Linked DNA regions of Homo sapiens. The protein of the gene in region 1 interacts with the protein of each later gene in a pairwise test. Each region holds a gene or a part of one and is shown in the gene's direction. Other genes may lie near its edges. The genes, in order: XRN2, EIF3L, EXOSC10, YTHDF1, USP16, DSCAM and UPF2.

Evidence for each region.
Region 2: the proteins of XRN2 (region 1) and EIF3L interact in a two-hybrid assay, tested with the Homo sapiens proteins (one large-scale study listed by BioGRID and IntAct).
Region 3: the proteins of XRN2 (region 1) and EXOSC10 interact in a two-hybrid assay, tested with the Homo sapiens proteins (one large-scale study listed by BioGRID and IntAct).
Region 4: the proteins of XRN2 (region 1) and YTHDF1 interact in a two-hybrid assay, tested with the Homo sapiens proteins (one large-scale study listed by BioGRID).
Region 5: the proteins of XRN2 (region 1) and USP16 interact in a two-hybrid assay, tested with the Homo sapiens proteins (one large-scale study listed by BioGRID and IntAct).
Region 6: the proteins of XRN2 (region 1) and DSCAM interact in a two-hybrid assay, tested with the Homo sapiens proteins (one large-scale study listed by BioGRID and IntAct).
Region 7: the proteins of XRN2 (region 1) and UPF2 interact in a two-hybrid assay, tested with the Homo sapiens proteins (one large-scale study listed by BioGRID and IntAct).

What each region holds. Positions count from the first base shown.
Region 1 is NC_000020.11:21,306,331-21,309,830, forward strand, and holds part of XRN2 (5'-3' exoribonuclease 2), read left to right. Parts: intron 1-3,500. UniProt on the Homo sapiens protein: Possesses 5'->3' exoribonuclease activity. May promote the termination of transcription by RNA polymerase II.
Region 2 is NC_000022.11:37,855,919-37,859,418, forward strand, and holds part of EIF3L (eukaryotic translation initiation factor 3 subunit L), read left to right. Parts: intron 1-2,760; coding exon 2,761-2,822; intron 2,823-3,500. UniProt on the Homo sapiens protein: Component of the eukaryotic translation initiation factor 3 (eIF-3) complex, which is required for several steps in the initiation of protein synthesis.
Region 3 is NC_000001.11:11,066,118-11,068,869, reverse strand, and holds the end of EXOSC10 (exosome complex component 10), read left to right. Parts: intron 1-163; coding exon 164-225; intron 226-785; coding exon 786-862; intron 863-2,121; coding exon 2,122-2,152; 3' UTR 2,153-2,252; downstream 2,253-2,752. UniProt on the Homo sapiens protein: Catalytic component of the RNA exosome complex which has 3'->5' exoribonuclease activity and participates in a multitude of cellular RNA processing and degradation events.
Region 4 is NC_000020.11:63,206,132-63,209,631, reverse strand, and holds part of YTHDF1 (YTH domain-containing family protein 1), read left to right. Parts: intron 1-3,500.
Region 5 is NC_000021.9:29,051,828-29,054,988, forward strand, and holds the end of USP16 (ubiquitin carboxyl-terminal hydrolase 16), read left to right. Parts: intron 1-1,974; coding exon 1,975-2,131; intron 2,132-2,238; coding exon 2,239-2,360; 3' UTR 2,361-2,661; downstream 2,662-3,161. UniProt on the Homo sapiens protein: Specifically deubiquitinates 'Lys-120' of histone H2A (H2AK119Ub), a specific tag for epigenetic transcriptional repression, thereby acting as a coactivator.
Region 6 is NC_000021.9:40,333,159-40,336,658, reverse strand, and holds part of DSCAM (cell adhesion molecule DSCAM isoform CHD2-42 precursor), read left to right. Parts: intron 1-3,500. UniProt on the Homo sapiens protein: Cell adhesion molecule that plays a role in neuronal self-avoidance. Promotes repulsion between specific neuronal processes of either the same cell or the same subtype of cells.
Region 7 is NC_000010.11:11,920,810-11,924,309, reverse strand, and holds part of UPF2 (regulator of nonsense transcripts 2), read left to right. Parts: intron 1-3,002; coding exon 3,003-3,012; 3' UTR 3,013-3,500. UniProt on the Homo sapiens protein: Involved in nonsense-mediated decay (NMD) of mRNAs containing premature stop codons by associating with the nuclear exon junction complex (EJC).

The sequences.
Region 1 (3,500 bases):
CACCATGTTGGCCAAGCTGATCTTGAACTCCTGACCTCAGGTGATCCACCAGCCCCTGCCTCCCAAAGTGCTGGGATTACAGGCATGAGCCACCGCACCTGGCCAGGAATTCCAGTTTTAATATTAGGTTCCCTCAGAACTTTGAAAGAAATTGTTCTTTTGTACTCTCTCATCTAGTAGTGTTGATGACAAGTTCGGTGTTAATGTGATGTATTTATTTAACCAGCAGTTATATAGCATTTACCATTGTTTTAAGAACTTTATTATAACTTGTTTGATCCTCACAACCACATGACTTCTACTGTTGTAATTATTTTTATTACATACAAATAATAGAAGCACGTTATTTGGAGACAACCAATATTGTTATTATGTTATAATAATTACTATGTTTATTGGCCGGGTGCGGTGGCTCACGACTGTAATCCCAGCACTTTGGGAGGCTGAGGTGGGTGGATCACGAGGTCAAGAGATCCAGACCATCCTGGCTAACATGGTGAAACCCCATCTCTACTAAAAATACAAAAATTAGCTGCGCATGGTGGCGCGCCTGTAGTCCCAGCTACTTGGGAGGCTGAGGCAGGAGAATCACTTGCACCCGGGAGACAGACATTGCAGTGAGCCGAGATCCCGCCACTGCACTCCAGCCTGGTGACAGAGCGAGACTCCATCTCAGAAAAATAATGATTATTGTTATGTTTATTATTATTTCAGATGAGAAAATGGAAACACAGCAGGGTCGCGTATCATACCCAAGGTCACTCAGCTGATAAATGTCAGAGCTAGTGTGGAAACCAGAAGGACTTAATTTTTATGCTCATATGCTTTCATTCTTTTGTGATCAGTTTTCCTTCCTAGATTTTAAAAAGATCTTTTTCTTGATAGTGTAAACTTTCATTATTAGGTACCCAGGTATAGATGTTATTTTAAATTCAGATTCATTTTGATCAGTACGTGGCTCACTCTTTGAGTCTGGAGTCTTACGTTCTTCGGTTTTAGGGAATGCTGTTTGATGATTTCTTGACCTTTTTTTCTTCCCTTTCCAGACTCAGGATACTGGTCCTCTTAGACTCATGTATTTTTATTTTTATTTTCTCTCTCATTCTCTGGCTTTCCTTGAAACCTCCCCCAACCTTTGGTGTTTTTGCAGCTTTGTTGAGGTATACTTGACATAGAATAAACTGCAGGTAATTAAAGTGTACAATTTTCTTTTAACTTTTTTCGAGTTGAGGTCTTGCTCTGTCACCAGGCTGGAATGTAGTGTGCAATCATGGCTCACTGCAGCCTCAAAGTCCTGGGCTTAAAGTATATAATTTAATACAGTGCATACATCTGTGAAACCAGCACAACCAAGACAGTGAACGTGACCTCTAAAACATTCCTTCTGCCCTTTTGTAGTTCCTTTCTACTATCCCTCCCTGCCACCTGTCTTTTGCCAACCACTGACTGGTTTGCTTTCTGACCGTATGATAAGTTTTCATTTTCTATAATTTTTTATAAATGAGATTATATAGTATATACTCATTTTTTGCCTCAGTTACTTTCATTCAGTATACTTATTTTGAAATTCTTCCGTTGTTGTATGTGTCAGTAGTTTATTTCTTTTTTGTTTTTATTTTTTTTTGAGATGGAGTCTCGCTCTGTCGCCCAGGCTGGAGTGCAGTGGTGCGATCTCGGCTCACTGCAACCTCCACCTTCTGGGTTCAAGCAATTCTCCTGCCTCAGCCTCCCAAGCAGCTGGGATTACAGGCACATGCCACCACACCCGGCTAATTTTTGTATTTTTAGTAGAGATGGAGTTTCACCATGTTGGCCAGGCTGGTCTTGAACTCCTGACCTCAAGTATCTGCCTGCCTCGTCTTTTAATTTTTGGATAGTATTCTGTGTGTAGATACACCACATTTTATTTATTTATTCAGATGATTGATGAACATTGGGATTGTTTCCAGTTTTTGGCTTTCTGAAAAAGAAACCTATGAACATCTCTGTACAAGTCATTGTAGGGACGTATGCTTGCATTTGTTTGGGGGAAAAACATTAGGAGTGAAATGGTTGGATTGTATATTAGGTGTGTGATTACTTAAAAAGAAAAACCTGCCAGACTTTTTTTTTCAAACTGGTTGTGCCATTTTACATTGGCATCAGCAGCATATCAGGGTTCCAGTTGCTCAACTTCCTCACCAACACTTGATATAGTTAGCCCTTTTAGTTTTAGGTAGTCCAGTGTACTGTTACCTTATTGTGGTTTTAACTTGCATTTCCTTCAGATGCTTATTTGCTTTCTGTATATCATCACGGGCAGGGTGAGGCATCTGTTCAGATCTTTTGCTCATTTTTATCTTCGGTTGTCTTACTTAAATGTAGAGTTTGTTACATATTCTAGATAGAAATCCTTAGTTTGATATATCTTTTGCAAATATTTTCTCTTGATCTGTGGCTTGTCTTTTTACTTCTTAACAGTGTCTTGGGAGCAAACATTTAAAAATTTTAATGAAGTCTGATTAATTTTTTCCCTTTATATTTCTGCTTTTTGTATTTAAGGAATCCTTTGTCAAAGCCAAGGTCTCCTGTGTTTTCTTAGAGAAGTTTTATAGTTTTACTTCATTCTGTGGTTTCCATTTTTTGGTCTAGTCATATGGTGAATTATCGGTCTTTAAATGCTAAAGCCACCTTGCATTCCTTGGATAAACCTCACTTGATCATGTTGTATTATTTTTATATACGTTGAATTCAAGTTTGCTAAAGTTTGCTAAAGTTTTCTTGAGAATTCTTGAGAATTGTGTCTCTGTTCACAAAAGATATTTGTAGCATTCTTGTAATGTGTAGTTGAGATGTCAGAATAATGTTGACCTCAAATTGAGTTCCTTCAGTTTTTTGGAAGAGTTTGTGTAGAGTTAGTATTGTTTCTTCCTAAAATGTTTGATAGAATTTACCAGTGAGGCCATCTGGACTTGGAGTTTTGTGGGAAGGCTTTAAGCTGCAAATTAAGTTTCTTTAGTTGATCTAGAACTATTGAGGTTACCTATTTATTTATTTATTTATTTTTTGGATGAGCTTTTTTAGTTTGTATCTTTCACAGATTTTGCCCATTTCATCTAAGTCAAGCTTGTCCAACCTGTGGCCTGCAAGCTGCATGCAACCCAGGATGCTTTGAATGCGGCCCAGCACAAATTCGTAAACTTTCTTAAAACATCATGAGATTTATGCACAGACCTTTTCTTTTTTTTTCAGCTCATCAGCTGTCGTTAGTATTAGTGGCCCAAGACAATTCTTCTTCCAAAGTGGCCCAGGGAAGCCAAAAGATTGGACACCCCTGATCTAAGTAGTTGAATTGGCTGACATAAAGTTGTTCATAGTATTTTCTTACTATCCTTTTTTTTTTGTTATTAAAATGTTTTCACTCCTGTTTTTACTTCTCTTTTGTTTTCTTTTTTCTTCCTGTTAACTTGTTATTATCCTTTTAATATTGTTAGAATCTGTAGTGATGTTACCTCTTTCAT
Region 2 (3,500 bases), on another chromosome or scaffold:
GCTCTCTAGCTTCCCACCTTTGACTTTCTTAGATGATGTCCTTTATATATGGGTGAGGTAGGCAAATCCAACTTCATTATTTTGCTTGTGGATATTCAGCTACCCTGGCACCAATTTATTTATTTATTTATTTTATTTTATTATTATTATTTTTTTTGAGATGGAGTCTCGTTCTGTCTCCCAGGCTGAAGTACAGTGGCACAATCTTGGCTCACTGCAACCTCCGCCTCCCAGGTTCAAGCGATTCTCCTAGGTTCAAGCAATTCTCCTACCTCAGCCTCCCGCGTAGCTGGGATTACAGGCGCCCGCCACCACGCCCAGCTAATTTTTGTATTTTTAGTAGAGACGGGGTTTCACCGTGTTGGCCAGGCTGGTCTCGAACTGCTGACGTCAGGTGATTCGCCCACCTCAGCCTCCCAAAGTGCTAGGATTATAGGCATGAGCCACCGCACCCAGCCTGCCCAGCTAATTTTTAAAAATTTTTTGTAGATACCGGGTCACACTTTGTTGACCTGGCTGATCTTGAACTCCTGACCTCAAGTGATCTTCCCAGAGTGCTGAGATTACAGGCATGCACCACTGTGCCCAGCCACATTGTCTTGATTACTATATTTTTGTAGTAAGTTTTGAAATGGGGAATTGTAGGCCGGGCGCAGTGGCTCACGCCTGTAATCCAAGCACTTTGGGAGGCCGAGGCGGGTGGATCACCTGAGGTCGGGAGTTCGAGACCAGCCTGATTAACGTGGAGAAACCCCATCTCTACTAAAAATACAAAATCAGCCGGGCATGGTGACACATGCCTGTAATCCCAGCTACTTGGGAGGTGGAGGCAGGAGAATCACTTGAACCCGGAAGGCAGAGGTTGCGGTGAGCCGAGATCGCGCCATTGCACTCCAGCCTGGGCAACAAGAGCGAAACTCCGCCTCAAAAAAAAAAAAAGAAAGAAAGAAATTGGGAATTGGTAAGTCCTCCAACTTTGTTCTTTTTTTTTTTTTCCCCAAGATTGTTTTGACTATTCTGGGTCTCTTGGATTTGCTTATTGATTTTAGGATGGACTTGTCAATTTCTGCAAAGTAGCCAGCTGGGATTTTGAGAGGAATTGCCTAGAATCTGAAGATCACTTTGGGGAGTATTGCCGTCTTAACAGTATTAAGTCCTCCAGGCCAGGCGCGGTGGCTCATGCCTGTAATCCCAGCACTTTGGGAGGTGAAGGTGGACGGATCACGAGGTCAGGAGATCGAGACCATCCTGGCTAACACGGTGAAACCCCGTCTCTACTAAAAATGCAAAAAAGTTATCTGGGCAGGCCGGCATGGTGGCGGGCACCTGTAGTCCCAGCTACTCGGGAGGCTGAGACAGGAGAATGGCGTGAACCCGGGAGGCAGAACTTGCAGTGAGCTGAGATTGCGCCACTGGACTCCAGCCTGGGCGACAGAGCAAGACTGCGTCCCAAAAAAAAAAAAAAAAAAAAAAACCAATATTAAGTCCTCCAATCTATGGACATGGGATGTCTTTGATTTATTTAGGTCTTTGGTTGCGTTCACCAGTGTTTTGTGTTTTCAGTGTACAAGTCTCTCATTTGTTTTGTTATAGCTAACGTTTTTTTGAACACTTAACTCCTTTTTTTTTTCCCCCTAAGATGGAGTCACGGAGTCTTGCTGTCTTGCCCAGGCTGGAGTGCAGTGGCGCGATCTCTGCTCGCTGCAACCTCTGCCTCCTGGGCTCAAGCAATTCTCCTGCCTCAGCCTCCCGAGTAGCTGGGATTACAGGCACCTGGCGGATTTTTTGTATTTTTAGTAGAGATGGTGTTTCACCATCTTGGCCAGGCTGATTTTGAACTCCTGACCTCAAATGATCCACCCGCCTCAGCCTCCCAAAGTGCTGGGATTACAGGCATGAGCCACTGCACCTGGCCTGAACATTTACTCTCAATTGACTAAACACAGAATGAGTTCAAAACTCATTCTGTGGCTGGGTGTCGTAGCTCACGGCTGTAATTCTGGTACTTTGGGAAGCTGAGGTGGGAGGATTTCTTGAGGCTGGGAGATTTAGACTAGCCTGAGCAACATAGGGAGACCCCCTTCTCTACAAAAAATTTTTTAAAAAAATTATCCAGGCATGGTGGCACATGCCTGTAGTCCCACCTACTCGGGAGGCTGAGGTGGAAGGATCACTTGAGCCCTGGAAGTCGAGGCTGCAGTGAGCCATGATCATATCACTGCACTCCAACCTTGGCAACAGAGCGAGACCCTGTCTTCAAACAAACAAACAACATTCTGAAATTAATATTTTCTTTCTTCCTTTTTTTTTTTTTTTTTTTTTTTTTGACATGGGGGTCTCACTGTGTTGCCCATGCTGGAGTGTAGTGTGATAATGGCTGACTGCAACCTGTGCCTGCTGGGCTCAAGCGATCCTCCCACCTTAGCCTGCCGAGTAGCTGGGACCATGGGTGCGCACCACCACGCTTGTCTAATTACTCTTGTGTGCTGGTTTTTTTATGCACTTGGATGGCAGAAGTCTCTAAATGGTGAAAGGAAATAGATCTGAATGAGATCTTAATCTCATCGACAGAGATTGAGGTTGATGGAGTCAAATGAGAAGTGGATTTTCTCATTGCATGTATTCTTGGGGCATATGCATAGCAATTTAGATGTTGTTTAGTCTTCAGAATTACCTTTATTCCTCCCCACCAAAGAGCTAAAGCTGCCAGGATACCCCAGTTTTATGGTTAGTGAAGCACCCTTCTGCCATCTCTTTCAGATGCTGTCTTCCTGATTTTATACAAAGAATTATACTACAGGCACATATATGCCAAAGTCAGTGTAAGTATTTAAGTGTCGCAGTTTTTTTTTTGTTTTTGTTTTTTTAACTCTGTGCTGTTTTTGTCCCTAGAACACAGTCATTTGTTTATATTGGTTCAGTGTCTGGGCATGATTGGCATGTTTTTGAGTTTTAAGAAGCGGTGGAAGGAACAGTTTAACCCAGAAAGCTGTTCAGACACACTAACGCTATATAACCTATGCATTCTTTTAAATTTCTCTGTCCCCACAATTCTCCTGGACTGGGCAATCACCCATGCACTGGTTATAGGCTGCCAGCCTCATAGGATATTTCCAGGTACCTGCTGCTGCTTCTGCTTGGGGTTCTTTTTCCCTTCAGAGCATTGAGCCTCTGTTTCTCTGAGATGTACATAACACTGTCACTGTATGCCAAGCACAATGCTAGGCACTTAGCACACATCTTCACATATCTAATTCTACTATCAATCGTGCAAAGTTGGTACCCGAGGTGCCAAGAGGTTACCTTTTCTCAAATTTATCCAGCTAGTAAGTGACAAAACTCCTTGAATCTAGACCAGCTTGTTATAACACCAGTATTCTACACATTATCCCAACTTTGAGCACTTGCTAGATTCTGTTCTTCCCGACTTCTAAATTATAGAGTACGTGAAGTTTCTTTTTTTTTTTTTTTTTTTTTGAGAGAGAGTGAGTCTCGCTCTG
Region 3 (2,752 bases), on another chromosome or scaffold:
GTATTCATTTATGTGAGCCATGAGCCCTAGCCCCTCATCGTGACAGGGGTGCTCTCACAGCCAAGGCTTCCCTGAGTGTCATGGTCCCGGCCTCGCTGTGAGCCTGTGATGTGTGGTAACTCATTGACCTGACCGCAGGTCTCTCTCATCTCTTACCTTTCAGGAAACAGCAAATCCAAAGTTTCTTCTCAGTTTGATCCAAATAAACAGACCCCGTCTGGCAAGGTAAGAACTGCTCCTGGAGGATTTTAGCACGCTGGTGGCGCCTGTTTCTGACCTCCTCCTCTGCTGAGAAGACAGGCCCATCCAGGAGTCCATTCCTTTGCATATCTTTTTCCTCACCTCATTTCTTCCCAAGGGCAGACAGTACTGATCAGCTACCCCAGCAACTCATAAAACGAGGCTGTAAAAGCTGGCATGTGGCTTTAAAGGGTATTATTCTGTGTTTGCTACCATGGGAACTATAGCTGCAGGCCAAAAGCACCCCCTTTGGGGCCAGCACAAGCCTGCATTCACCCCTCGTGGGTGTTGGTGCTGGTGCCAGGGAAACAGCGTGGCTGTAGCTTCCACAGGCGCGGGGGCAGGGCTGCTTTGGGGTGCTCCTGTTCCTCTTGCAGCGCATCCTGGCGGCCTTGCCTTCAGAGACACAGAAACATCCTCTCTCAGGGGATCTAAAGTCACTCCTGTGCTGCTAGAATCTTTGGCCACCTGAGCTCAGGTGTGTTTTTCTGTGTATCTTGTGGTCAAGGTGCCCACCCAGCTTAAACGGTTTCTTTTCTTTTCAGAAATGCATTGCAGCCAAAAAAATTAAACAGTCGGTGGGAAACAAAAGCATGTCCTTTCCAACTGGAAAGTCAGACAGGTATGTGGTGGACGGCGGTGTGGCCCAGGGAGCCCAGTGAGAAAGCACCTGCCCTGCGTGGTGTGGTCCGTGGGGAGTAGCTGGGGAGCGAGTGTCCAGGGGTCTTCAACCAGGATGACTCAGAGAACCTCCCACAGCCAGGTCCCTCACGCCACTCGGAAAACAAGGGCGGGAGGTGATTTGCTCTGTGCCATACATCACAGAGCCAGGCACTGCACCCCAGGACTCAGATTCCCCTTGTTCCTGGCTCTCTAGTTACCGTGTGTCCTGGGGTCACCTCAGGGAAAATAGGTGTAAATAGTTGTGAAATTTTCCTGGACCAGCCTATTAGGAATGAGGAAAAAGTAAGCACATGTGGGTTATCCTTGTTGTTGAAGAGTGGTTTGGCTTGGTTTGGTTTTGTTTTGTGAGAGTCTCATTCTGTCACCCAGGCTGGAGTGCAGTGGCACAATCTCAGCTCACTGCAACCTCCACCTCCTGGGTTCAAGCAAGTCTCTCACCTCAGCCTCCCGAGTAGCTGGGATTACAGGTGCCTGCCATCATGCCCGGCTAATGTTTTTTTTTTTTTTCTTCTTTGAGATGGAGTCTCGGTCTGTCGCCCAGGCTGGAGTGCAGTGGCACGATCTCTGCTCACTGCAAGCTGCGCCTCCCGGGTTCACGCCATTCTCCTGCCTCAGCCTCTCGAGTAGCTGGGACCACAGGCGCCCGCCATGATGCCCGGCTAATTTTTTGTATTTTTTAGTAGAGACGGGGTTTCACCATGTTAGCCAGGATGGTCTCGATCTCCTGACCTTGTGATCCGCCCGCCTCGGCCTCCCACAGTGCTGGGGTTACAGGCGTGAGCCACCGCGCCCGGCCTGTTTTTGTATTTTTAGTAGAGATGGGGTTTTGCCATGTTGGCCAGGCTGGTCTCAAACTCCTGGCCTCAATTGATCCTCCCGCCTTGGCCTCCCAGAGTACTGGGATTACAGGTGTGAGCCACTGCACCCAGCCAAATGTTTTTGTTAAAAACATAAAATCCTAATAATTAAGCCGACCCTGAGGTCAGGGGACTTGCCCGAGGGCAGGAAAAACAGGTCTGCCTTCTCAAGATGCTGCTCAGCTCAGCCAACTCTGGTGGGCCGCCGAGTTCTCTGGGGCCCCTGAGCAAACCATTCTTCCTCTGTTCTGCATGATTAAGATTTGCACCATTTTGTAAACCATCTGAGAACATCCAACCAGCCCGGAAGAAATAACTGTTGTTTTTGTACTCTCTGCAGAGGCTTCAGGTACAACTGGCCACAGAGATAGTCCTGGAAGACACGTGGCGCCTGTGGACCGGAAGCACCAAATGCTGGTGCTGCTTTTGTACATACATATTTTTAAACCATTAAAATTCTTCCTGAAGAAAGCTGATTCCTGACTTTTATTTTGTTGCCGCCACAGCTCTGGCAGGTTGCCATCCTGTTCAGGCAACCATCTTCAGCTGTCTGTGGGCAGGTGAGTGTGCTCCGGGGGTTATGGTGACTTCTAGAAAAATCCAGAGCCGGCCGGGTGCGGTGGCTCACGCCTGCAATCCCAGCACTTTGGGAGGCTGAGGCAGGCGGATCACGAGGTCAGGAGATCGAGACCATGCTGGCCAACACGGTGAAAGCCTTTCTCTACTAAAAATACAAAAAATTAGCCGGGCATGGTGGTGGACGCCTGTAATCCCAGCTACTCAGGAGGCTGAGGCAGGAGAATCGCTTGAACCTAGGAGGCGGAGGTTGCAGTGAGCCGAGATCACGCCACCTCATTTGAGCCTGGGCAGTAGAGCAAGACTCTGTCTCAAAAAAAAAGGCAAATGCAAAGAGAAAATTTTAATCATTTGTAGTCCTGTCACACAAAGATGCTTTTTTCCTTTTTTTGAGA
Region 4 (3,500 bases), about 42 Mb from region 1:
CTTCCTGCCTTATTTTTGATTTTTTGTAGAGATGGGGTCTCACTGTGTTGCCTGGGCTGTTCTCGAAATCCTGGGCTGAAGCAGTCCTCCTGCCTCGGCCTCCCAGAGGGCTGGGATTATAGGCATGAGCCACTGTGCCTGGCCGTGTCTTCATTTATAACAAAAAAGTTCAAAAAGTTAAAAAAAATTTAATAGAAAAAAGCTTATGGAATAAGGATATAACAAAAAAAATTTTTGTACAGCTATATGATATATTTGTGTTTACAAAAGAGTCAAAAACCTTAAAGCTTTTAAAAAAGTAGTTTGTAAAGTAAAAAAGCCATAGTAGGCTAGGGTTTATTATTGAAGAAAGGAAAATTTAAAAATTGAGTGTAGTGTTAAGTGGACGGTGTTTCTAAAGGTGACAGTGGTGTCCAGTGAGGGCCCAGGCCTTCACATTCTCTCCCTGACTCACCCAGTGCAACTCAGGCCTACCTGCTCCATTCACCGTAAGTGCTCTGTACAGGTGTCCCGTTCTTGATTTCTTATACCGTATTTTTACTGTACCTTTTCTGTGTTTAGATAATGTTTAGACACACAGATACTTATCATTGATGTACAGTTACTTCCATTATTCAGTACAGTTACACACTGTACAGGTTACGGCCTCAGTGTGTGGTAAGGATACTGCCTCCATGCTCACACGTCTCTGTTTGTGTGAGGACACTGATCACACAGTGACGAAATTGCTCATCAGGTTTTGGGTGGTTTTTTTTCACTGAACACAATGCCTCATCAGAGCATCTAGGACTTCTTTGAGAACAGCCTGGAGATGCTTGGCACAGGGCTTCCTGCTGTGCCTGGGCAGCTCTGGTGGGCCCGGGGTGACCTGAGGGCCAGCAGGGGAGTGTCAGTTTCTTGTGGCTGCATCTAAAAATATGGGCTTCCTTAAAATACCCAGTGGCAGCGCCTGCTAAGTAGGCATTTGCCATCACAACGGCTTCCCAGAAACGCAGCTGGAAGGACATAGTGGGATCTTAACGTGCTTCTTACTGGCAAGTTGCTGAAACAAATGCAGAAATTCTGTCAGAAACTGCTGTCTCTGCATATTGATGCCACCAGCTGAGGGGCTGAAATTGCAGCCTCAGAGGGACCAGTCCTGAAAACAGATCTGAAAAGTGAGCAGCCAAGTAAGTAAATTAGGGTTTTTCGGTTATTTTCCTCTAACATTTTCTCTGTGCTCCCTAAGGCTTCTCCTGAAGAACAGGTCATCCTGGTAGGCCTGTTCCCAGTCCTGGGTCAGAGCTGCTTCCCAGGAGCCATATCACTCCCTCACTTTTCAGCAGTACCCTTAATACTTTTCCATTTTACATAATTAATTATTTTGTTTTGTTTGTTTGTTTTTATTAAGCAAATGCTTCTCTCTGTTCCTCTTGGGCTTCTGAAGGGATCCTTTCTGCTTCTCCCTCTAGTCTCTCCTTTTGGTCATTCCAACTCCATCTCAGAAAAATGGATATAGGAAGTAAACTTAACCATTGAACTTCAACTTAAATGGTTCTGGTCATTCGGATGGAAGTTTCTTTTTTTTAATGTGGTTAAATTTGAGTAAATATGTAAAACTGCTCTTAGTTCTTTTTTGTTTGTTTTTGTTTTTTTTTTTTTGAGACGGAGTCTCACTCTGTCACCCAGGCTGGAGTGCAGTGGCGTGATCTTGGCTCATGGCAGCCTTCACCTCCCAGGTTCAAGCGATTCTCCTGCCTCAGGCTCCGGAGTAGCTGGGACTACAGGTGCCTGCCACCATACCCGGTTTAGTAGAGACGGGGTTTAACCATATTGATCAGACTAGTCTCGAACTCCTGACCTTGTGATTCACCTGCCTCGGCCTCCCAAAGTGCTGGGATTACAGGCCAGAGCCACTGTGCCCGGCTAAAAATGTGTTAGCCTTTCTTCGATGAGGTCGTCAGTTCTCCGCAGGGGCTGCAGTGAGGCGCCTAGCATGTGGAAGTGTTCAGCAGTCTTCTGTGGAGGCGGCTGCAGAGTAACAGGATCATGGTTTTGCTTGTATTGTCCTTAAAAGATCTGTTTATGCCACTCATTTACGAGGACCAAAATATGCTTGCTCAGAGGTAGTAATGTGTTAAGAACAAGCTTTGAATTTGTTCTTTTTTTTGGAGGGGGGTGGGGGGGACAGAGTCTTGCTCTGTCACCCAGGCTGGAGTGCAGTGGCTCGATCTCGGCTCACTGCAAGCTCCGCCTCCCGGGTTCACGCCATTCTCCTGCCTCAGCCTCCTGAGTAGCTGGGACTACAGGCACCCACCACCACGCCCGGCTAATTTTTTGTGTTTTTAGTAGAGAGGGGGGTTTTACAGTGTTAGCCAGGATGGTCTTGATCTCCTGACCTTGTGATCCGTCCACCTCAGCCTCCCAAAGTGCTGGGATTACAGGCATGAGTCACCGTGCCCGGGGTTAATGCAGCTGTATCCCTGAGAAGTAAACTTTCACACTCATAACTCAGTGCCCATGGAGCCGTGGCACTAAGGAATGTTGAGGGAGCAGCACAGCTCGCCTCCAGCACTTGGCAGCGAGTGAGCGCTGAACCTGTGCCTGGCTGTGCGGGAGACAAAGGGAGATCAAAGGCCCTGAAAGGAGGCTGCATGTGTTTTCCAGGCAGCCCGAACTGTGCGTTTCCAGTTGTCTCCCACGCACTGTGACCAGGACTGTGAATGGGACAGCTTCCCTCACCAGGGAAGGAGTGTGGGGCAGCAGCCTGACATGTGGCTCATAAAGAAGGCAGAGGACAGCATCTCCAGGTTTTCTTATGTACAGAATGACTGACTTCACATAGCTTTACAAATTAACCTGCTTCTTTACCTTCAGAGTTTTGGAGGAAAGATGGCAGATGTAATAGGAAATGGGCTGTCAGTGAGATTGAGGTAAAAATGGAAATCCGGCCCACAGAACCCCAGGTCACTGTATCCAGCCTGCCTGTGTGGCCGTGGAACCCGGTGAGCACAGAAAGTATCAGGAGGGTTTAGGGCTGCCAGCAGAGCTGATTAGCGTCACCGTCTTCTGTGGCTCAGGATGTGAATGGTGGTGATCTGGAGCTGAAGGATTTGCAGAGTACTGGCTAGAACTGCAGGCCCTGCACCTTGGGTAGAGGGAAGCTGGATGGGTCATTTATGGGCTCTCTGTCTGTGCAGCGTGTGTGCTAGGTGTGTCCATTTAATACTTAAAACGGATTTTCAGGAATGTTACATGCCTCATGTAATGTGGATTTTTTCATGTGGTAAGTGATGTCCTGTCTTAGTTAAGGCTTTAGGTGTAAGTCAGAAGTGTCCCTGGGCATCTGTTTCTGTGGCCTGACTCCTCTGGTTGGTGTTGGGGCCAAGTGGATTAGAATACCACACAGCCATCGAGGTCTTTTTTTCCCATCTGCTCTTTTTGCGTGGAAGGAAGATGTGTTGTGATTGCAGCGCTGCTGAGGAGCACGTGTCCAGCTAATGGGAGGAGGAGGGCTGGCT
Region 5 (3,161 bases), on another chromosome or scaffold:
TCAAAAAAAAAAAAAAGTCTGGGCCAGTTGCTGTGATGGGCATAATGGAAGAGGCCGCTAAGGACAATTTATAAGATTATGGTCACATTGAGGACTATGACAAGGTACATGATCATTTATTATACTTTTGTTTCTTGGCAGTAGTGGCCATCTGGGTTTGGGGCATGGCAGGTACATTATAGGATTCAGGGTGAGGTTTTGTGATGAATTGGATATGGAGGAGATTATTTGTAAGTGATACATGTGATTGAAGTTCCCAAACTTTAATGTGTATGTGGGAATCAGACCTACAAATTTTGATTCTGTAGGTCTAGTATGGGATCAAAAATTCTGCATGTTTAATGTAAACTCTCAGGTGATGCTGATGCTGGCTGTTCATGGACCACATTTTGAATAGCAATGGTCTAGACTGCATATGGGAATTATATTATGTCAGTTTCCATGCTGCTGATAAAGATATACTGGACAAGATATACTGGGCAAGACTGGGCAATTTACAAAAGAAAGAGGTTTACAGTTCCACATGGCTGGGGAGGCCTCACAGTCATGGCGGAAGGCAAGGAGGAGCACGTCACATCTTACATGGATGGCAGCGGGCAAAGCAAGAGCTTGTGGAGGGAAACTCCCCCTTAAGAAACCATCAGCTCTCATGAGGCTTATTCACTATCAAGAATAAGGATGGGAAAGACCTGCTCCCATGATTCAGTTGCGTCCCAACGGGTACCCTCCCATGACATGTGGGAATTGTGGGAGCTACAACTCAAGATGAGATTTGGGTAGGGACACAGCCAAACCATATCAGGAATGAAGCCAAAAGTCTTCATAGGTGAGGAGAATATGAGCATTGGAGATCCTGTTAGGTTAAAGAGTACAGAATAGGTGAGATGAGAGTTGAATAAATAGAAGACTTGTGGACTAAGACTAAAAATAAGATTTATGTCCCTTCAGCTCAGGAGTTTGAGACCAGCCCAGGCAACATGCTGAAACCCCATCTCTACAAAAAATTAATTTAGCAGGTCATGGTGGTGTGCACCTGTAGTCCCAGCTATTCCAGAGGCTGAGGCGGGAGGATCACTTGAGCCCAGGAGGCAGAGGTTGCATTGAGCTGAGATCATGCCACTGCACTCCAGCCTGGGTGACGGAGTGAGACCCTGTCTCAAAAAAAATTTTATGAAGTTGAACAATTCTGAGTGATGACAAGCCCAGACTCTAGTCCTGGGTGTGGTTGACTAAAATGGAATGGCATTTAAAGTCCTGTGAGAATCATAGATGGACGGAGAAGTACTAAGTTCTTCAGTGAATATGGAGGCACAGATTGGGAAGCTGAGTATAGGAGACAGTACTACTGAAGGGCCGTGATGCCTGTTACGGACTTTTACATGAGAACATAAATAGTTGTCTGAAAAGTGGCTCCTGGCCCAGAGAATGCCTGTTCCTGTTGCCAGCCCTATGGCATATAGAGTCCTGAAAGAATAAGCAGCGTGCACTCTCTCGTGGGGAAAGTGAACACTTGAGAGGTTGAATGTGCTTCTCACCAACTCCCTTGGGGACATTTAAAGATGTAAGGGGTAATTTTTGGCACAACCTAAAATACTGTTCTCTTCCTGTTCAGGGCTTACCTTTTTTTAAACAGGGTATTCAGAGTTGTTAATAGCTAGGGTTGTTAAGAATTATCCTCAGGCTCCTAAAGAAACTGGCAAGTTGAATTCAGTTATTTGGTATCTGAGCCAGGTAACTGCATCAAGTGGCCTGTGGCTTACAGCTTTTCTACCAGGGGAACAATGGTGAATTTATAATAAAAACAGAAGTGTCTCAGGCTGAGAAGAGGTATGGAGAAAAGAGTAGACTCATGAATGATTTCTGCACTCTCAAAGTAATGGTTAAAGACCCTTTGCATAGTGTAAACTTGTCTTGCCCATGACATCTGTGTAAATGGAACTAGAACTAACTTTTGGATTCTACTCATTTTTAAAGAATGTTGCAGAAGAAAATACAAGGGTACTCTATTCCTTATATGGAGTTGTTGAACACAGTGGTACTATGAGGTCGGGGCATTACACTGCCTATGCCAAGGCAAGAACCGCAAATAGTCATCTCTCTAATCTTGTTCTTCACGGTGATATTCCACAAGGTAAGATGTCTTGGAAAATTCAGGCACTCAGCAGATTACGGCAAAACCAAAAAGTAATCAACTTGAATCTTTCCATTTATGTTTGATTTTTCATTTTCTCATGACAGATTTTGAAATGGAATCAAAAGGGCAGTGGTTTCACATCAGCGACACACATGTGCAAGCTGTGCCTACAACTAAAGTACTAAACTCACAAGCGTACCTCCTATTTTATGAGAGAATACTGTAATAATATCAAAAGCACTTTTTCTGGAAACACATTTATGGCTTTTATAATGGCTGAAATAACGATAAAAAAAGACTAATTAAAATCATGTTCACTTAACATTAAATACATGCCAGAAGAAATCATGTTTATTTAAATATTGAAGGGAAAAATACCTAAAAATGTACAAAGGTTTTATATTGTCATAGTGGTTTTTATTCCTGCTTTGTTTCTGGAAAGGAAATCCTGAATTACTTAAGTACTTTGTGTTTAATATATCTGGGTGATGGATCACAACACATCAATAAACTGACTTACCCTAAAATCTTGTTTTATTACTGGGAAGATTTTAACTTCTATTGACTTATCCTACTAGGTAACACTTTAAAAAATATTTCATCAGACTGGCTAATGAAGCTTCATTACAAGTGTGTTAATTTTTTTTTTTTTTTTTTTTTTTTTTTTTTGAGACGGAGTCTTGCTCTGTCGCCCAGGCTGGAGTGCAGTGGTGCGATCTCAGCTTACTGCAAGCTCTGCCTCCTAGGTTCACGCCATTCTCCTGTCTCAGCCTCCCGAGCAGCTGGGACTACAGGCGCCCGCCACCACGCCCAGCTAATTATTTGTATTTTTAGTAGAGACAGGGTTTCACCGTGTTAGCCAGGATGGTCTCGATCTCCTGACCTCGTGATCCACCTGCCTTGGCCTCCCAAAGTGCTGGGATTACAGGCTTGAGCCACCGCGCTGGGCCATACAAGTGTGTTAATTTTATAAGCATCTATATTGACAGCAGAATATAAATGGGAGCAATGTTTCTTTATAAGCCTT
Region 6 (3,500 bases), on another chromosome or scaffold:
AGTCAGATGCCATATCAACACATTTTCTGTACTCTGTCATCTTAAAATTCATTGGTCTATCATACCCTTGGAAGGAATGTTTTACCCACACATGATTTTGTAACATAAAAAGTTGATCATTTGGAAATGATTGGTTCACTGTGTTACACAGATCTTCCAAATGTTGATACAATTTGTTATACAATATCAAAATATCACAACTACTAACATTACCATGATCTCATCAGAAAGTCTTCAAGTAAACTGTCAAGTTCATGCTGATGGATGCAAGTTTTCTAAAATTCTATTCTTTCTTGAAAGATTCAATTTTATTATTTATAATAAACACCATCAATTGTAATTGTAGGAGTGATGGGCTCATTTATCTGTAAGAAATTGTTTGACAAATAGAAAAGACCGCATAACCATCGTTTTTAGGTAGCCATTCTTTTAAGAAAGAAATGGAATTCCATGAAGAAAAGCAGCTGGTCGAATTTGCAACTCAAGCAAGCACAGACATACTCTGCTTGAAAATAGCCGTGCTGCTCAGGAGGTGGAGGAAACACTGTGCCTTCTTCCCATTTTATTACACAGGACATAGAACATTAAAAATAACGTGAGCTTTAGGGTAAAGATGTAATAAAACTGTTATGTTTCCTGCTTCGTCAAGTGTCTGTAAGTGAATCTGGCATTTTTAAAAAACCAACTCACAGTATGCATCGGTAAACAGTACAATGAATAGTCATCCTGTTAGTGTCCCTGCTGGGATTCATGGTAACGCCCAGCAGTCTCACCCACCATGGCTTTTGCTCCAACAGTGCAAATGTCAACACCATGAGAAAGGCAAACAGCACCTCAGCATTGTCATGAAAACGATTTTCTTCTTACAGATCACCTAAAATTGTCTCAGGGATCCCTACAGGTCTGTGAGCTACATTTTGAAAACATCTAATACAGTGCTAAAATTTTAGTTTATTTTTAATGTTTGACCATTACAAATGAGGCATCAAATGAACTTCTTTATGCATTGGCCTTTGTCTGATTTTAAGATTATTTCTTTCGAGAAAAATTTCCAGAAGTATGACCATTGGATAAATAGGTATAATACTTTAATGTAATTTTTAGGAGACATAGATTTAAACGAAAGCCCTTTGAATCATTAACATTTATTCTTTAAATTTGCCAGATCAGTATAAATGAATGTATTCATCTTAATCCTTTTGAAGTGACAGAAACCAACTCAAACTAGCTTATGGCCAAAAGAATAATTTATTGTCTCTTATAAACAATATATTTATGATTTTAGGAAATAATTCTATTGAATAATTTTTTCTTCAGGAGCTTCTTTTCTTCTGAATACTTATCATATAGTATAAAACTTGTCAGCTCCTTTGCAAGTACTTGCAAACAAAAGAAGGAAAATATTATTTTATGTGGTATTTTATTGCCTGGAGAGAAATGGCAGTTGTTGGGATTTGGGGCTTGCCAAATTTTTCAGAATAGTCGGGAAAAGCTGCCTGGAAAAAGTGAGATTTTGAGCAAAGATGTGAAGGGGTTCAAGACAGCTCATGGATACCTGGGGAAGGGACATCCTAGGTAAAGGGAAGAGATACAACCACGGTGTCTAGAGTTTGCCTGGCAAGCTTGAGGAATAACAGAGAGGCTGGTGTGGTGGGAGCCAAGTGAACAAGAAAACACTAAAAGGCCCTGAGTCAGAAGGAGCAGAACCTTTTCACGGGGGACTTACTAGATCAGGACTTCGGTTTTCAGGACGTGGGGTTTTCTGCTGAGTGAGATGGGGGCTTTATTGGATGACTTTAAACAGAAAAGTCACATGGCCAGACTAAGGTTTTAAAAGGATGCTTTTAGCCAGGCAAGGTGGGACGAGCCCGTAGTCCCAGATACTCCAGAGGCTGAGACAGGAGAATACTTCCAGTCTAGTAGTTTGAGGTTGTGGTTGTGGTGCACTATATTTGCACCTGTGAATAGACACTGCACTCCAGCCTGGGCAACATAGTGAGACCCCATCTCTAAAAAGAAGAAGGACGCATCTGATTCCTGTGCTGAGAATGGTCTATTCGGGGAAAGGGGGCAAGTAGAATGACCTGTTGGAAAGTGAATCCAGGTGAGAGATGATGGTGGCTTGGACCAGGGGGAGAGCAGAGGAGGTTGGGGGTAGAAGACAGACTCCGGATCTATTTCGAAGGTCTATTCAGTCGGTTTTCCTAGTGGTTGGATACAGGTGTGAGGAAAATAAAGACATCAAGGATCAGGTCAGGCTTCTGGCCTGAATATCAGGAAGAATGGCATTGCTTTCTACTGAGTCAGCAGAAGATGCAGTGGAGCCGTTTGAGGAAGGCGATTAGGAGTCTAGTTATCGATGTGTTGAGGTTGAAATACACACTAAACAAAGAAGTGGATGCTGTCAGTAGGAAATTAGATATGGGAGAGTAGAGTTCAGGAATCCAGGCTGCAGATCTGGTGACATCAGTGAATAGATGATGTTCAACACCAAGGCCTGAACAGGACCCTCAGGGGACTTTGTGCACTACACCGCAGATTTTAACTTCATATGTACAGGCTTCCCCAGCCCCCAGTCAGGCTCACATTAGAACCCTTCACCAAATATCTGAAAATAAAGTCTGACAAAAATTCAAACAAGGACTGTTTGAAATGTAAGTTTACCTATTTTTAGATTTCCCAGATTGGCACAGATCCATGTATTGACTATGACCCCATTGGTTGCAAGGTGCGAGAACCCAAATTACCTTTGCTTAAGCAGCCAGGTGCAGAGGCTCACTGCTGTAATCCCAGCTACTTGGGAGGCCTAGGTGTGATGTGGTACGCACCTGTAGCTCCAGCTACTCCGGAGACTCAGGCAGAAGAATGGCTTGAGGCCAGGAGTGCAAGACTGTGGTGAACTACTTCCAAAACACAGTAACAGTTTTACACCATTCGCAATCTTAGCCTTTACTCAGAACTTAGAAGGGTCTTAAATAAAATGACTTCTGAACATTTAAGTTTACATTTTAAAATATTTTAACCTCAGCACTTTGGGAGACCGAGGCAGGAGGATCACTTGAGGCCAGGAGTTTGAGATCAGCCTGGCCAACGTGGCAAAACCTGGTCTCTACTAAAAATACAAAAATTAGCCAGGCATGGTGGCACACACCTGTAATCCTAGATACTCAGGTGGCTGAGGAGGGAGGATGGCTTGAACCCAGGAGGCGGAGTTTGCAGTGAGCCAAGATAGCACCACTGCACTCCATCCTGGGTGACAGGGAAGACTCTGTCTCAATCAATCAATCGATCGATCAGTAAAATGTTTTTAAATGAAATATTAATATATAAAGTAAATTATACTCCAATGGTCAGGATTGTAGTTTATCAAGGCTTTTTAAAAATTAACCTTTACTATTTTCAGTTACCAAGTATTAGGGGAGGGAGATAAGAAATTAGCTAAATTTTAGGAAAAGACTTAGAATTTTGGCTTTCCCTGTGGATTAGGATTGAAAGAGACT
Region 7 (3,500 bases), on another chromosome or scaffold:
CACCACGCCCGGCATAAACTATTTTTCTCCTGTAGCTTTTGATGGACTCCCAGATTTTAATTTGTATTTGTATATTTTCTAACCAGGAGATCCTTGAAATAAGGACATAAATTAAAATTTCAGCCCTTTAACAAATAAGAGGCATTTGCTTACAATGAGTTGAAACGGCAGCAGTGCTGTAAGTAAAACTATTATGTAGGGTTTTCTGTATTGCAGAACAAGGTTGTTTTTCTAATACACTAGTATTGAAAATCTGTGAAACTTAACATTTTTGGCAAGTGTTAATACTTACATGGCTTAGATGGTACTAATTCATATGGGTTATTTCAATGCTTCTCAAACTTTAAAATACGTATTAACTCTCTAGACTCTTACTAAAAAGCAAGTTCTGATTAGTTTCTTTTATTATTATTTTTTAATTATTGTGGAAAGCTTCACGAATTTGTGTGTCATTCTTTTTTGTTGTTTTTTGAGATGGAGTCTTGTTCTGTTGCCCAGGCTGGAGTGCAGTGCCGGGATCTCGGCTCACTGCAACCTCTGCCTCCCGAGTTCAAGCAATTCTTGTGCCTCAGCCTCCCAAGTAGCTGTGATTACAGGCATGTGCCACCACGCCCAGCTAATTTTTTTTTTTTTTTTTTTGAGATGGGGTCTCGCTATATCGGAGTGCAGTGGCGTGATCTCTGCTCACTGCAACCTCCGCCTCCCGGGTTCAAGCAATTCTCTGCCTCAGCCTCCCGAGTAGCTGGGATTACAGGCACCTGCCACCACACCTGGCTAATTTTTGTATTTCTAGTAGAGACGGGGTTTCACCATCTTGGCCAGGCTGGTCTTGAACTCCTGACCTCATGATCCACCCTCCTCGGCCTCCCAAAGTGCTGGGATTACAGGCATGAGCCACCGCGCCCAGCCAAATTTTTGTATTTTTAGTAGAGATGAGGTCTCACCATGTTGGCCAGGCTGGTCTCCAAAACTCCTGACCTCAAGTGATCTGCCTGCGTTAGCCTCCCAAAGTGCTGAGGGTACAGGCGTGAGCCACTGCACCCCACCTGCATGTCATCCTTGCACAGGGCCATGCTAGTCTTCTCTGTATCACTACAATTTTTAGTATATGTGCTGCTGAAGTGAGCACAACAAGCTCTGGTTACTTTTAAACAAGATCTCCAGTGATGTCAAAACTGCTGGTGTGTGGCCTACACTTAGCGGCATAGGAGTATACTATCTGACTTTTAAACCCATCTTTTTAAAAATGATTTTGTTGTTGTTTTATTTTGTTTTTGAGACAGGTTCTTGCTCTGTCACCCAGGCTGGAGTACAGTGGCGTGATCACAGGTCACCGCAGCCTCGACCTCCTGGGCTCAAGCAGTCCTGCCTCAGCCTCTCAGTATCTGGGACTATAGGCACACACCACTACAAATGGCTAATTTTTTTTATTTTTAGTGGAGTCGAGGTCTCACTATGTTGCCCAGGCTGATATTGAACTCTTGTAAACCTATCTTAAGTAGAGTCTGCATTTTTTCATCAGATTTTTTTTTTATATATCTTTATGTAAGGTTAAATTAGTGATAGTTTTGTTATACAATAGAGTCCATTGTAGAATTGCATTTAATCCAAAGTGTATATTGTATTAATAAACAGTTTTTGAGCTGATAGATTTTTGAGTCACTCAGAATGATTGTTTGCTTATAAACCAGTCAAATGACACCTTACACTATAACTAGTGATATAACTATACCTTACTTAGCAAAGATTTTGAACATTTTTTTCCTGTCATTTACTGCATTTATTTAAAGTATTCTAGGTTAGATAGCTGCCTTTTCTTGACTTCAGGAGAGATGCTTGAATCTTCTCTTTCATTCCCTCAGGGAATACTTGTGTTCTTTCCATCAGTTCATTTCTGGAAGAGTTACGGATCTTATCCAGCTGAGGATATACTTTTCCATATTTGCATCTTAACGCTTTGAAAGTTTCTTGCTAAGGTAGCTTGCTCTGTAAGAAACAAACTGTTCATCTGCTTGGGCTGCCATGACAAAATATTACAGCCCTAGTAGCTTAAACGACAGATGTCTGTTGTCTCGCAGCACTGGAGGCCGCCGGCAGGAAACCTGAGGTCAGGGAGTCAGCGGGGCTGGTTCCTTCTGAGGCCTGGAGGAAGACTGCTCCAGGCCTGCCTTCTACTGCTGGGGGTGCCGGCAGTCTTTGGCTTCCATACCTTGTCATACCTCACCCTGGTCTCCGCCTTTGTCTTCACGTGGCCTTTTCCCCCTGTGTGTGTCTGTGTGCAAATTTCCCTTTTTATAGAGATGCAGTCATATGGGATTAGGGCTCCACCCTGCTCCAGTATGGCCTTATCTGAAGTAATTACGTCTACAGCAACCTTGTTTCCAAATACGGTCACATTCTGAGGTCCTGCAGTTCAGTGTTAACATGTGAATTTTGGGGATACACAACTGAACCATAACACAAACTGTGAATTCTTAGCACCTTAAGAATAAGTTGTAGAAGAGAACAGAGCCACTCCTCCAGCCATTGCTCCAATGGCTCTGGTTAAGTTGTAGCTCAGTAGAGAGCATGAATGCTCTCAAAAAAGCACTACAGTTGTCCTCGGTATCCACAGGGGGTTGCTTCCTGGATCCCCTCAGACACCAAAATGCACAGACATTCAAGTCCCTGGTAAAAAATGGTGTAGCATTTATGTATAACATATGCACATCCTCCCGTGTACTTTACATCATCTCTACATTACTTGTAATACCTAATAAAGTGTAGATGCTATGGAGATAGTTGATATACTGTATTGTTTTTAATATTTATGTTATTTTTTATTGTTTGGGTTTTTTTCCCCCGAATATTTTTGGTCCATGGATGTGGAACCCGCAGATGCCAGGGCCACCTGTAACTTGGGGGAGTGACTTGGTGGTGGTGGGTAGCGTTGCAGACGCCATCTTGCTGGACTTTGTCCTGTGGCAGTAAGCTCTCTGATGTGACCCTGTTTGTTCCTTTAGGAGACGTTGATCCAGCAGCACGTGTCATTTCATTAGGTCCTGTATCTGATGTTGTGGTTAGTGGAGTCCTCCAGCAATTGAATGAGAGCAGTGGACACATCTCAGCAGGTCGGTCTAGAGAGTTGCGAATCTAAACCTGGGACAGGCTGGGGCCAGGAGGCAGAAACACCAGCCTCTGCCAACACCGGAACAAGCCGACGCTTCCAGACAAGGCGGAAAAGGCCTTTTGTAATGGAAATCTCGCGAGGGTTAATCTTCTCTTGAGAATGGCAGTCAAGAAATGAGATGGTTCACTTGACTACTGAGCAGTTACACCAAGGAGAGCGTGAAGGAGATGATTGAGCCAGAGAAGAAACGGGTTGTGATGGTAATGGTGTGGGGGAAATGAACTTGAGCTTTAAACTTGATTTGAGTTTCAGTGTCTCTGAATTGAACATCCCACGTTGGAAGAAGATACATTTGGGGGCTCCAGGACTACAGTAGAAAAGTATAGAGCAA